Linked DNA regions of Homo sapiens. The protein of the gene in region 1 binds, or shares a complex with, the protein of each later gene. Each region holds a gene or a part of one and is shown in the gene's direction. Other genes may lie near its edges.

Region 1 (3,649 bases):
TGACATTCTGGTGGATTTTTATATGGCTTCTTAGTCTTCATGTTTCTTCTACCTTGTGACAAGAGTTACCTGGTTTGGGTTGTTCAAATATAACCCCAGTGACAACTTCCCTTAGGTTGCTCAGATCATAGTATGAATGGTAAGTGTGCTAAGTAGTAGCTTAATTATAAGTAAAAACTCTGGCTTTTGATCTCTCATGATGCACTTAGTAGCATGAGAACATGGAACAAGCATCATTTTCTGCATTTGGAAGATATTTATTTATTGAACAAGTTTATAACTTATTAGAAGTATCCCTGGAGCTTGTAATCAACCTTGGGCTTTCAGCTAATATTTTCTTCTTAAATTTTACTCCTTTTTTCTCTTTTTTCCTCTTTAACTTATCCTTTACATTAGGAGAGATGTTTTTCTTTCTTTAATGAGGGCCAGTAATGTACAGACCTACACAAGAGTTTTTAGAAATTTTTTCTCCTTGTTAAAACCAGTCTTTCTTAATTTGAGTATTATCTACCTTGACTTTACTGTTTTGTCCCCCGTATACCAGCATTATAAAAGGAGTCATGCCTGTAATTCCAGCTTTGGGAGGCTGAGGTGGGTGGATCATCTGAGGTCAGGAGTTTGAGACCTGGCCAAACGTGGCAAAACCTTGTCTCTACTAAAAATACAAAAATTAGCCAGGTGTGGTGGCACTTGCCTGTAGTCCCAGCTACTTGGGAGGCTGAGGCAGGAGAATTGCTTGAACCCGGGAGGCGGGGGTTGCAATGAGCCGAAATTGCGCCAGCGCACTCCAGCCTGGGCGATAGAGTGAGACTCTGTCTCAAAAAAAAAAAAAAAAAAAAGTGTATTATATGTAATTGTTTTGAAGAAATGATTTACCCTGTGAGGTAAAGAAATAACTGTTTAAAAGTAGAACTGTAAGCCTTGTCAAGAAGTTTGTCTACCTGACATGAAGTTTCAAGAAGTTTTAGCCCAAATACTTTCGGTTTTTTTTGTTTTTGTTTTTGAGAGAGTCTTGCAGTGGCGCAGTCATGGCTCATTGCAGCCTCCACTTCTCAGGCTCAAGCAGTCCTCTCACCTCAGCTTCTGGAAGTGTTGGGATTACAGGTGTGAGCCACCACACCTGGCTCTAAATATTTTTCATTGAGCACCTTATCAGTGTTCTAGGCCATTCTAGTCATTTTTCTTGTTTCTTTAGACTGTTAATTTATGTTCCTCATCTTGCTCATACTCATTATCATATTATTTATAAATGAATTTGGATTAGAAGGGGAATGATATGTTACTATGGCGTAGATACAATGTAGATATTGTTACATGGTGACTTTTTTCTTGTTATTTTTCAGTGTTCCATTGGCAAGCTACAATAATGGGGCCAGTAAGTATTCAGATTAATTTCAGAATAAACAGTTTATGTAATTTACTCATTTTAATCCCACTTTTCTTGTTATCAACAGAATGACAGTCCCTATCAGGGTGGAGTATTTTTCTTGACAATTCATTTCCCAACAGATTACCCCTTCAAACCACCTAAGGTAATTAATTGGAATGTGGCAGTTTTTAATGTACTTTCTATAATACTAATAAACTAGTTTACAGAAAGTTTCCTTTCTTTCTGTAGGTTGCATTTACAACAAGAATTTATCATCCAAATATTAACAGTAATGGCAGCATTTGTCTTGATATTCTACGATCACAGTGGTCTCCAGCACTAACTATTTCAAAAGGTAACAGTGGGTATTTGATATCAAGATAAAGCAACCGTGTCTTTTGTCTTTTTAGAGTTATTTATTTTTGAAAAGATTACTTATGTTTCTTTTAAGAAGAGATAGCAATTCTTCTTAATCTGAAATGGACCTTGAGAACTGAAAACGAGTTGGATTTTTCAAGCAAAAGTATTCCTTGGTGTAGTGACTAGTCTGTCAGTTGTGCTACTCTAGCATAGGTTAGAAGATGAACACTGGGCCTGGTGCCGTGGCTCATGCCTGTAATCTCAGCACTTTGGGAGGCCGAGGCGGGCAGATCACAAGGTCAGCAGATCGAGACCATCCTGGCTAACATGGTGAAACCCCGTCTCTACTAAAAATACAAAAAAATTAGCTGGGCATGGTGGCAGGTGCCTGTAGTCCCAGCTACTCGGGAGGCTGAGGCAGGAGAATGGTGTGAACCCGGGAGGCAGAGGTTTCAGTGAGCAGAGATTGTGCCACTGCACTCCAGCCTGGGCAACAGAGCGAGACTCTGTCTCAAAAAAAAAAAAGAAGATGGACACTGGTATGAATGTTTTTTTAGAGCATAAAGTAGAGCACAATTAACATCTCTTCCAACCTTGAGATTCATGAATGGAAAAAGATAGATACTATTGCAGAATAGGAAATAGACCAGCCCTTTAGACAAATGCCTATGCTGTAAACATAGACGTTAGGTTCTTGAAGAACAAAATATAGGTAAATATTTTACCAGCTCTTGTCTTTAGGTTTCTGTATCAATGAACTGAGTGATGTAGTTGTTGTCTTAATGTGTTGATTTGAAATTGTACAACCCTTCAACATTATTCCCAGATGAAATCACAGTTGCGTTACAATAATCTAGATTTTTTTTTTTTTTTTTTTTTTTTGAGATGGAGTCTCACTCTGTCGCCCAGGCTAGACTGCAGTGGTGCAATCTTGGCTCATTGAAACCTCCACCTCCCGGGTTCAAGCAATTCTCCTGCCTCAGCCTCCCTTGTAGCTGGGATTACAGGCACCCGCCACCACGCCTAGCTAATTTTTGTATTTTTAGTAGAGACTGGGTTTCGCCATGTTGGCCAGGCTGGTCTCGAACGCCTGACCTTATGATCCACCTGCCTCGGCCTCCCAAAGCGCTGGGATTACAGGCATGAGCCACCGTGCCCAGCCAAATAATCTAGAATTTATAAAGGAAAACAAAAACAAGTATTTATGGCCTGGCACGGTGGCTCACGCCTGTAATCCCAGCACTTTGGGAGGCCGAGGCAGGAGAATCGCTTGAACCCAGGAGGCGGAGGTTGCAGTGAGCTGAGATTGCGCCACTGCACTCCAGCCTGGCCAGCCTGGGGGACAGAGCGAGACTCCGTCTCAAAAACAAGAATATTTATCAGATCTCACTGCTGTACTCTGAAAGGTGATAAAAGAGTTCACTGGATGTACTTTTGTGAAAATGAAATCAGTTGTTTAAGAGAAAAATCAAATATGGTAATGGATTAATATGTTTAAAATATGAAGTACAAAAATCAGAAAAAAATTCAGATCCCAATAGATGAATGGACACAGGGGAACCAAAGAATAAATAAATGAATGTTACGTTCCTATTTTTTACCTTTTTAATTAACAAAGATATTTTTAAAAGAAGACAAAACACTAATGAGGTACATTGAAATGAACACTCATATTCTTCAAGTAGAGGTATAGATTTGTAGAGCCCAGTCTGCCAGTATGTGTTAAGAGACTTAATCATCCATGCCCATTCACCCAATAATTCTAGTTTCATTTATTTATACTAAGAAAACAATCCCAAATGCTGAAAAAACTTTGTATACAAGTACATTTGTGACATTGTGATTTAGTTCTGAAAATTGGAGGTTACTTACAGTAGAGGAAAAAATAGATCGGTTCCAGCACATGCATTTAAAAGAGTA
Region 2 (2,955 bases), on another chromosome or scaffold:
GTAACAAACTGGCCTGCTAGGAGCCAAGTCTAGCCAGTCACTCCTAGGAGTAGTAGACAGGCCTTGCTCACCGTTCTTCCCCCTACCCCCGTTTAATCAGTGTCTTCTCTCCTCAGAAAGGGAAGGAAATTCTCACAGATAACAACATCCCTCATGGCCAGTGTGTCATCTGCCTCTATGGTTTCCAGGTGGGTTTCTCTCTTGGGACCTGGCATTCTGTTTGGGACCAGCAGATGAGGGCTGTGAGAGAGCTCTGACTTAGTGCCCTACATCTGCCTTCCCTCTAGGAGAAGGAGGCCTTTACCAAAACACCCTGTTACCACTACTTCCACTGCCACTGCCTTGCTCGGTACATCCAGCACATGGAGCAAGAGCTGAAGGCACAAGGACAGGAGCAGGAACAGGAACGGCAGCATGCTACAACCAAACAGGTAGACCTCACTGCACCTGCACACTCATCTGACACCCTTAGGCACAGCCTTTCACAAACTTTTCCATCTCTCCACTCCAGTGGCTCTTCACTTTTTCAGGGTCATAGATACCCTTGAGATTAATGAACTCTTACCTCTGTCCAGAATAAAGGGCATCCTTTTTTTTTTTTTTTGAGATGGAGTCTCACTCTGCCACCCAGGCTGGAGTGCAGTAGCACAATCTTGGCTCACTGCAACCTCCGCCTCCTGGGTTCAAGCAATCCTTCTGCCTCAGCCTCCCGAGTAGCTGGGATTATAGGTGCGAGCCACCACGCCCAGCTGATTTTTGTATTTTCAGTAGAGACGGGGTTTCACCATGTTGGCCAGGCTGGTCTCAAACTCATGACCTCAAGTGATCCCGCCCGCCTCGGCCTCCCAAAGTGCTGGGATTACAGGCGCGAGCCACCGTGCCTGGCCAGGGCATCCTTATATACACTTACATATTGCATGCAGTTTCGGGGGGTTCCCAGATCTCTAGTTAGACAACCCGTGCTCTGTCCCAACTCACTGCTGAACCGGTGTCCCTGTGCCCTTTAGTCCCAGCCCTCTGCAGATTAGGTTGGCTGATGGGTCAGCACCAGGGGGCATCCTGGGCTGTGACACAGGCATATGATTTTTCTCTTTTTTAGAAGGCAGTCGGTGTGCAGTGTCCAGTGTGCAGAGAGCCCCTCGTGTATGATCTTGCCTCACTGAAAGCAGCCCCTGAACCCCAACAGCCCATGGTAAGGAGACTTTTTTCCAATCTGAGCCAGGAGTAATGGTATTTTCTAAAGAGTAAGGAATGGCATCTTGTCTGTGTCAAATGGGATCTCTGAAATTGGGCTTGAACTGCCTAGGACCTCTCTGCAAAGCCACATCCCCCACTGGCGGGAGCCTAAGACTCTGGGAGCCCAGACCTGAGGGGCAAAACCAGTGCAGATCTCCTGAGGCAGCCTGGGAGGAGTAGAGGTTTGAGTCAGCCTTCTGCTGTTCATTATTTCCTCTCTGCCATTCTTCCTTCCAGGAGCTGTACCAGCCCAGTGCAGAGAGCTTGCGCCAGCAAGAAGAACGCAAGCGGCTCTACCAGAGGCAGCAGGAGCGGGGGGGAATCATTGACCTTGAGGCTGAGCGAAACCGATACTTCATCAGCCTTCAGCAGGTGAGGGAAGGGCTTCCCAGTTGTCCTGTAATGCCACCAACCTTTCTACAAACCCCAATCAGCCATGGCCCCAGAGTGAGCTTTGTTCTAACCAGGAAGATGATAGGCTGATCGTGGTCAGCCCAGATAGTAGGAGAGGGGCCTGTAGTTCCCCACCTTGAGGAACTGCATCTCCCTCACTGCATCTTGTCACTTATTTCTAGCCTCCTGCCCCTGCGGAACCTGAGTCAGCTGTAGATGTCTCCAAAGGATCCCAACCACCCAGCACCCTTGCAGCAGAACTATCCACCTCACCAGCCGTCCAATCCACTTTGCCACCTCCTCTGCCTGTGGCGACCCAGCACATATGTGAGAAGATTCCAGGGACCAGGTCAAATCAGCAAAGGTTGGGCGAAACCCAGAAAGCTATGCTAGATCCCCCCAAGCCCAGTCGAGGTCCCTGGCGACAGCCCGAACGGAGGCACCCAAAGGGAGGGGAGTGCCACGCCCCTAAAGGTACCCGTGACACCCAGGAACTGCCACCTCCTGAGGGGCCCCTCAAGGAGCCCATGGACCTAAAGCCAGAACCCCATAGCCAAGGAGTTGAAGGTCCTCCACAAGAGAAGGGGCCTGGCAGCTGGCAGGGGCCCCCACCCCGCAGGACTCGGGACTGTGTTCGCTGGGAGCGCTCTAAAGGCCGGACACCCGGTTCTTCCTACCCTCGCCTGCCTCGGGGCCAGGGAGCATACCGGCCTGGTACTCGGAGGGAGTCCCTGGGCCTGGAATCTAAGGATGGTTCCTAGCAGGACTTGGTGGGGGGAACAGGGAATTGGGGATGGGAGGGAGGCAATAAAGATATTTGGCCTTCTTTGGCTTTCTTTGCTTAGCAGCGCCTAGCCTGTGAGGAATGGCTCTTTTTCTCAATTCCTAATAAGATTGGGGTGTGGCAGAGCAGCCCCCAACTTTGCTCTGAAGTCTGTTCTCCGAAGAGCTGGGTAAAGAGGGTCTGACATCTCATCAGCTAGTATAGTGAGTTTCAGGGAAAACTAGTGGGATGTCAGCATGTAAGCAGAGTCCTTAGGACCCACCGTTAACAACTCATTGTGTACACACCCATGCCTGTCCATTATTTATATACATAGAATGCCTTTAGGTAGAGGAATTTAGTTTCCTGTTTTGTGTCTCATCTCTTTATCTTAGGCTATGCCCCATCATTTGTATATGTGGTTGCCTGACTGACCCCTGTAGGCACCTGTGATTGCAGCCCGTCTTACTCAAGTACCAATCCAGTGATGAAGGGAGATGAGAGAGCAGAGTAGTGTGGCAGATGTTTATTGAGCTAGAGGAGGAGAGCTGAGCTGAGCCCAG
Region 3 (3,649 bases), on another chromosome or scaffold:
GCACCACCAAGGATGGTAAGCAGGGATGAGAAAGCTGCAGTCTATAGGCTGGTACAATGTTTGAAAAGTATAATTTTCATATGTTAAAATACATTTTAAAAAGTCAGTGATTACTTTGGAGGGGATAGAATTGTGTCTGGAGGCCGGGCACAGTGGCTCACGCCTGTAATCCCAGCACTTTGGGAGGCTGAGGCAGGTGGATCACCTGAGGTCAGGAGTTCGAGACCAGCCTGACCAACATGGTGAAACCCTGTCTCTACTAAAAACACAAAAAATTGGCCAGGCGTGGTGGTGGGTGCCAGTAATCCCAGCTACTTGGGAGGCTGAGTCAGGAGAATTGCTTGAACCCAGGAGGTGGAGGCTGCAGTGAGCTGAGATCGTGTCATTGCACTCCAGCCTGGGTGACAAGAGCAAGACTCCATCTCAAAAAAAAAAAAAAAAGAGAAGGAAACAAGAGGGGAAATTTTAGGGGCTGGCCACGCTGTTTTTGTTATAGGTACTGGTTATATGGATGTGTTCAGTTTTGAAATTTCATTCAACTATATGCTTATAAGAACTTTCCAGTATGTACAGTATACTTAAAATTTAAAAAGCCTACCTTTGGACATGTATTAATACTCCCAAATAGATATTATGTGCTGAGTAGTTTAAGAGGCATCAGGTCATGCTCATGTGTATAAATTACCCAAATGCTCATTTTTATTTCTATGTTTATGGAGTCTTCAACAACTCCTATAAATAGGTCAGAATTTTCTGGAAATGTTGATTATGTTAAGATTTCATAATGAGCACCTTTAAATAAACCAGAGAACATATTTCTTGACCAGAAAGGAAGGAAGGAAGGAAGGAAGGAAAGGAAGGAAGGAAGAAGGGAGGGAGGGAAGGAGGGAGGGGAGAGGGGAGGGAGGGAGGGGAGAGGGGAGGGGAGGGAGGAAGGGAGGGAAGGAGAAAATGGTTTTATAGGGAATTATAATGTGTCTGGTATTTTTACTTCCTTGACTTCCTGCTATTTTCTTATGTGACACACAAAACCCCACAGAAGAAAGACATATTTTCTCAAGAAATTTGAGGTAAAATCCAATTTAGACATTCTTTAAAGTATCGTTTAAACTTAGCCTATAGGAAAGCTATTTCACCCACTTTGAATTCTTACTTTTCTTGAAATGTGTGAAAGTGCATGTGGTAAGAATGTGTGATTCTAAAGAAGTCTTGCTGGGAAGGTAAGCAATTCTCGGGAAGTGCAGGGTGCAAGTGGACCTGTAATTTGGTAGTATGGCTCATGGGGTACGAGGTGTCATTAAATTACAGTTTACACAAATGAATACATGGTGGTGGCTCCTTATAGCTTTCAAGGAAAGTGATGTATTTTTGGTCTGTTTGGGGTAGATTCTGCCGTTCCTGTATTGCTACCAGTCTAAAGAACAACAAGTGGACCTGTCCTTATTGCCGGGCATATCTTCCTTCAGAAGGAGTTCCAGCAACTGATGTAGCCAAAAGAATGAAATCAGAGTATAAGAACTGCGCTGAGTGTGACACCCTGGTATGTATGTGACCCCACCTATTTTCATGGTTACCAGCTTAAGTCCCTGCGAAAGTTATCATTTCACCTCTGCTTCTGACCCCATGGTACGCACCTTTTTTTTTTTTTTTTTTTTTTTTTGAGACAGGTTCTCGCTCTTTCACCCAGGTTGGAGTGCAGTGGTGCGATCTCGGCTTACTGCAACCTCCGCCTCCCAGGTTCAAGTGATTCTCCTGCCCGCAGCTTCTCGAGTAGCTGGGTCTACAGGCACCTGCCATCACGCCTGGCTAATTTTTTGTATTTTTAGTAGAGACACGGTTTCACTATGTTAGCCAGGATGGTCTCAATCTCCTGACCTCATTACCCGCCTGCCTCGGCCTCCCAAAGTGCTGGTGAGATGTGAGGCCAGCTGGACTTCCCGGGTAGAGTGGGGACTTGGGAAACCTTCCTGTCTTACAAGAGGATTGTAAAACACACCAATTAGCGCTCTGTAAAATGCACCAATCAGTGCTCTGTAAAACGCATCAATCAGTGCTCTGTAAAGTGCACCAATCAGCACTCTGTAAAACGCACCAATCAGCAGGATTCTGAAAGTAGCCAATCGCAGGGAGGATTGGAAAAACTGCACTCTGATAGGACAGAAACGGAACATGGGCGGGGACGATAAGGGAATAAAAGCTGGCCACCCCAGCTAGCAGTGACAACCGGCTTGGGTCCCCTTCCATGTTGTGGGAGCTTTGTCCTTTTGCTCTTCACAAGAAACCTTGCTACCACTCACTCTTTGGGTCCGTGCCATTTTTTTTTTTTTTTTTTTTTTTGAGACAGAGTCTTGCTCTGTCGCCCAGGCTGCAGTGTAGTGGCGCCATCTCGGCCCACTGCAAGCTCCGCCTCTCAGGTTCAAGTGATTCTAATGCCTCAGCTTCCCGAGTAGCTGGGACTACAGGCATGTGCCACAATGTCTGGCTAATTTTTTGTCTTTTTAGTAGAGAGAGGGTTTTGCTATGTTGGCCAGGCTGTTCTCAAACTCCTGGCTTCAAGTGATCTGCCCACCTTGGCCTCCAAAGTGCTGGGATTACAGGCGTGAGCCATCTCACCCAGCCTCCAATTTCATATATGTACATATATCATCTGCAGAAAACCCTGAACTTCTACCATCACCCGTAATTTGTCAAACAAATGCTTTCATTGACCACCTCCATTTTCCCTTCTTCCCATTACTCCAGTGATCCTCTATGATATGTCCTCCAGTTCTGCTACTCTGTTGCAGACCACTAATGAATAGCTTTATTATCAAACCCAGTGACATATTTCCACCTGTATTGATCTGGACTTTGCAGTATTTGTCTCTATCAAGCACACCTTGCCTGTTGCAGTTTTCAACTTGGGTACTATATCAGCTTCCCCAGATCATGTGAGGTCTTGAAGGTTATGTAGAAGATTCTAGATTTTATCTTAAATGCAATAGTAAGCCAGAGAAAGAGAGTAAGTTTTGGAGTGCCAAGATCGGGCTTATATCTTTATTTTTATTTTTATTTGAGACAGAGTCGCACTCTGTTGCCCAGGCTGGTGTGCAGTGGTGCGATCTCAGCTCACTGCAGCCTCCACCTTCTGGGTTTAAGCGATTTTCATGCCTCAGCCTCCCGAGTAGCTGGGATTACAGGGGCCCAACACCACGCCTGTCTAACTTTTGTATTTTCAGTAGAGACACAGTTTCACCATGTTGGCCAGTCTGGTCTTGAACTCCTGACCTCAGGCGATCTGCCCGCCTCGGACTCCCAAAGTGCTGGGATTACAGGCATGAGCCACCATGCCCAGCCCAGGATTGTATCTTTAAGATATCACTCTAACATACACATAGAAAATGGTTTGGAGGCCAGGCGCAGTGGCTCATGCCTGTAATCCCAGCACTTTGGGAGCCCGAGGCGGGAGGATTGCTTGAGCTCAGGAGTTCAAGACCAACCTGGGAAGAGACCTTGTCTCTACTAAAAATCAAAAAAATTAGCTGGGGCATAGTGGTATACGCCTGTAGTCCTAGATACTCCAGAGGCTGAGTAGGAAGAGCGCTTGAGCCCAGGAGATCAAGGCTGCAGTAAACTATGATCGTGCCACTGCACTCCAGCTTGGGCAACA

What was found.
Region 2: the proteins of UBE2D2 (region 1) and RNF25 are in contact, whole or in part, in a crystal structure (PDB 5D1K), measured with the Homo sapiens proteins. Residues at the interface, in NP_003330.1 of Homo sapiens: Leu3, Lys4, Arg5, His7, Lys8, Glu9, Leu10, Asn11, Asp12, Arg15, Ser22, Pro25, Gln34 (codon at 1,355), Thr36 (codon at 1,361), Val49 (codon at 1,479), Phe51 (codon at 1,485), Asp59 (codon at 1,509), Pro61 (codon at 1,515), Phe62 (codon at 1,518), Lys63 (codon at 1,521), Phe69 (codon at 1,625), Thr70 (codon at 1,628), Thr71 (codon at 1,631), Arg72 (codon at 1,634), Ser80 (codon at 1,658), Asn81 (codon at 1,661), Gly82 (codon at 1,664), Gln92 (codon at 1,694), Ser94 (codon at 1,700), Pro95 (codon at 1,703); in NP_071898.2 of Homo sapiens: Val136 (codon at 165), Ile137 (codon at 168), Cys138 (codon at 171), Leu139 (codon at 174), Tyr140 (codon at 177), Cys161 (codon at 339), Arg164 (codon at 348), Tyr165 (codon at 351), His168 (codon at 360), Pro199 (codon at 1,121), Val200 (codon at 1,124), Arg202 (codon at 1,130), Gln220 (codon at 1,184), Met222 (codon at 1,190), Glu223 (codon at 1,474), Leu224 (codon at 1,477), Tyr225 (codon at 1,480), Gln226 (codon at 1,483), Arg238 (codon at 1,519), Leu241 (codon at 1,528), Tyr242 (codon at 1,531), Arg244 (codon at 1,537), Gln245 (codon at 1,540), Arg248 (codon at 1,549), Gly249 (codon at 1,552), Gly250 (codon at 1,555), Ile251 (codon at 1,558), Ile252 (codon at 1,561), Leu254 (codon at 1,567).
Region 3: the proteins of UBE2D2 (region 1) and RNF125 are in contact, whole or in part, in a crystal structure (PDB 8GBQ), measured with the Homo sapiens proteins. Residues at the interface, in NP_003330.1 of Homo sapiens: Leu3, Lys4, Arg5, His7, Lys8, Glu9, Asn11, Pro61 (codon at 1,515), Phe62 (codon at 1,518), Lys63 (codon at 1,521), Ile88 (codon at 1,682), Gln92 (codon at 1,694), Ser94 (codon at 1,700), Pro95 (codon at 1,703), Ala96 (codon at 1,706), Leu97 (codon at 1,709), Thr98 (codon at 1,712); in NP_060301.2 of Homo sapiens: Ala38, Val39, Cys40, Leu41, Glu42, Cys60 (codon at 1,400), Thr63 (codon at 1,409), Ser64 (codon at 1,412), Asn67 (codon at 1,421), Pro73 (codon at 1,439), Tyr74 (codon at 1,442), Arg76 (codon at 1,448), Glu102 (codon at 1,526), Tyr122, Lys125, Tyr126.

What each region holds. Positions count from the first base shown.
Region 1 is NC_000005.10:139,613,243-139,616,891, forward strand, and holds part of UBE2D2 (ubiquitin-conjugating enzyme E2 D2), read left to right. Parts: intron 1-1,343; coding exon 1,344-1,375; intron 1,376-1,454; coding exon 1,455-1,532; intron 1,533-1,618; coding exon 1,619-1,724; intron 1,725-3,649.
Region 2 is NC_000002.12:218,663,392-218,666,346, reverse strand, and holds the end of RNF25 (E3 ubiquitin-protein ligase RNF25), read left to right. Parts: intron 1-116; coding exon 117-188; intron 189-287; coding exon 288-431; intron 432-1,099; coding exon 1,100-1,192; intron 1,193-1,473; coding exon 1,474-1,608; intron 1,609-1,811; coding exon 1,812-2,390; 3' UTR 2,391-2,455; downstream 2,456-2,955. UniProt on the Homo sapiens protein: E3 ubiquitin-protein ligase that plays a key role in the RNF14-RNF25 translation quality control pathway, a pathway that takes place when a ribosome has stalled during translation, and which promotes ubiquitination and degradation of translation factors on stalled ribosomes.
Region 3 is NC_000018.10:32,035,730-32,039,378, forward strand, and holds part of RNF125 (E3 ubiquitin-protein ligase RNF125), read left to right. Parts: intron 1-1,386; coding exon 1,387-1,540; intron 1,541-3,649. UniProt on the Homo sapiens protein: E3 ubiquitin-protein ligase that mediates ubiquitination and subsequent proteasomal degradation of target proteins, such as RIGI, MAVS/IPS1, IFIH1/MDA5, JAK1 and p53/TP53.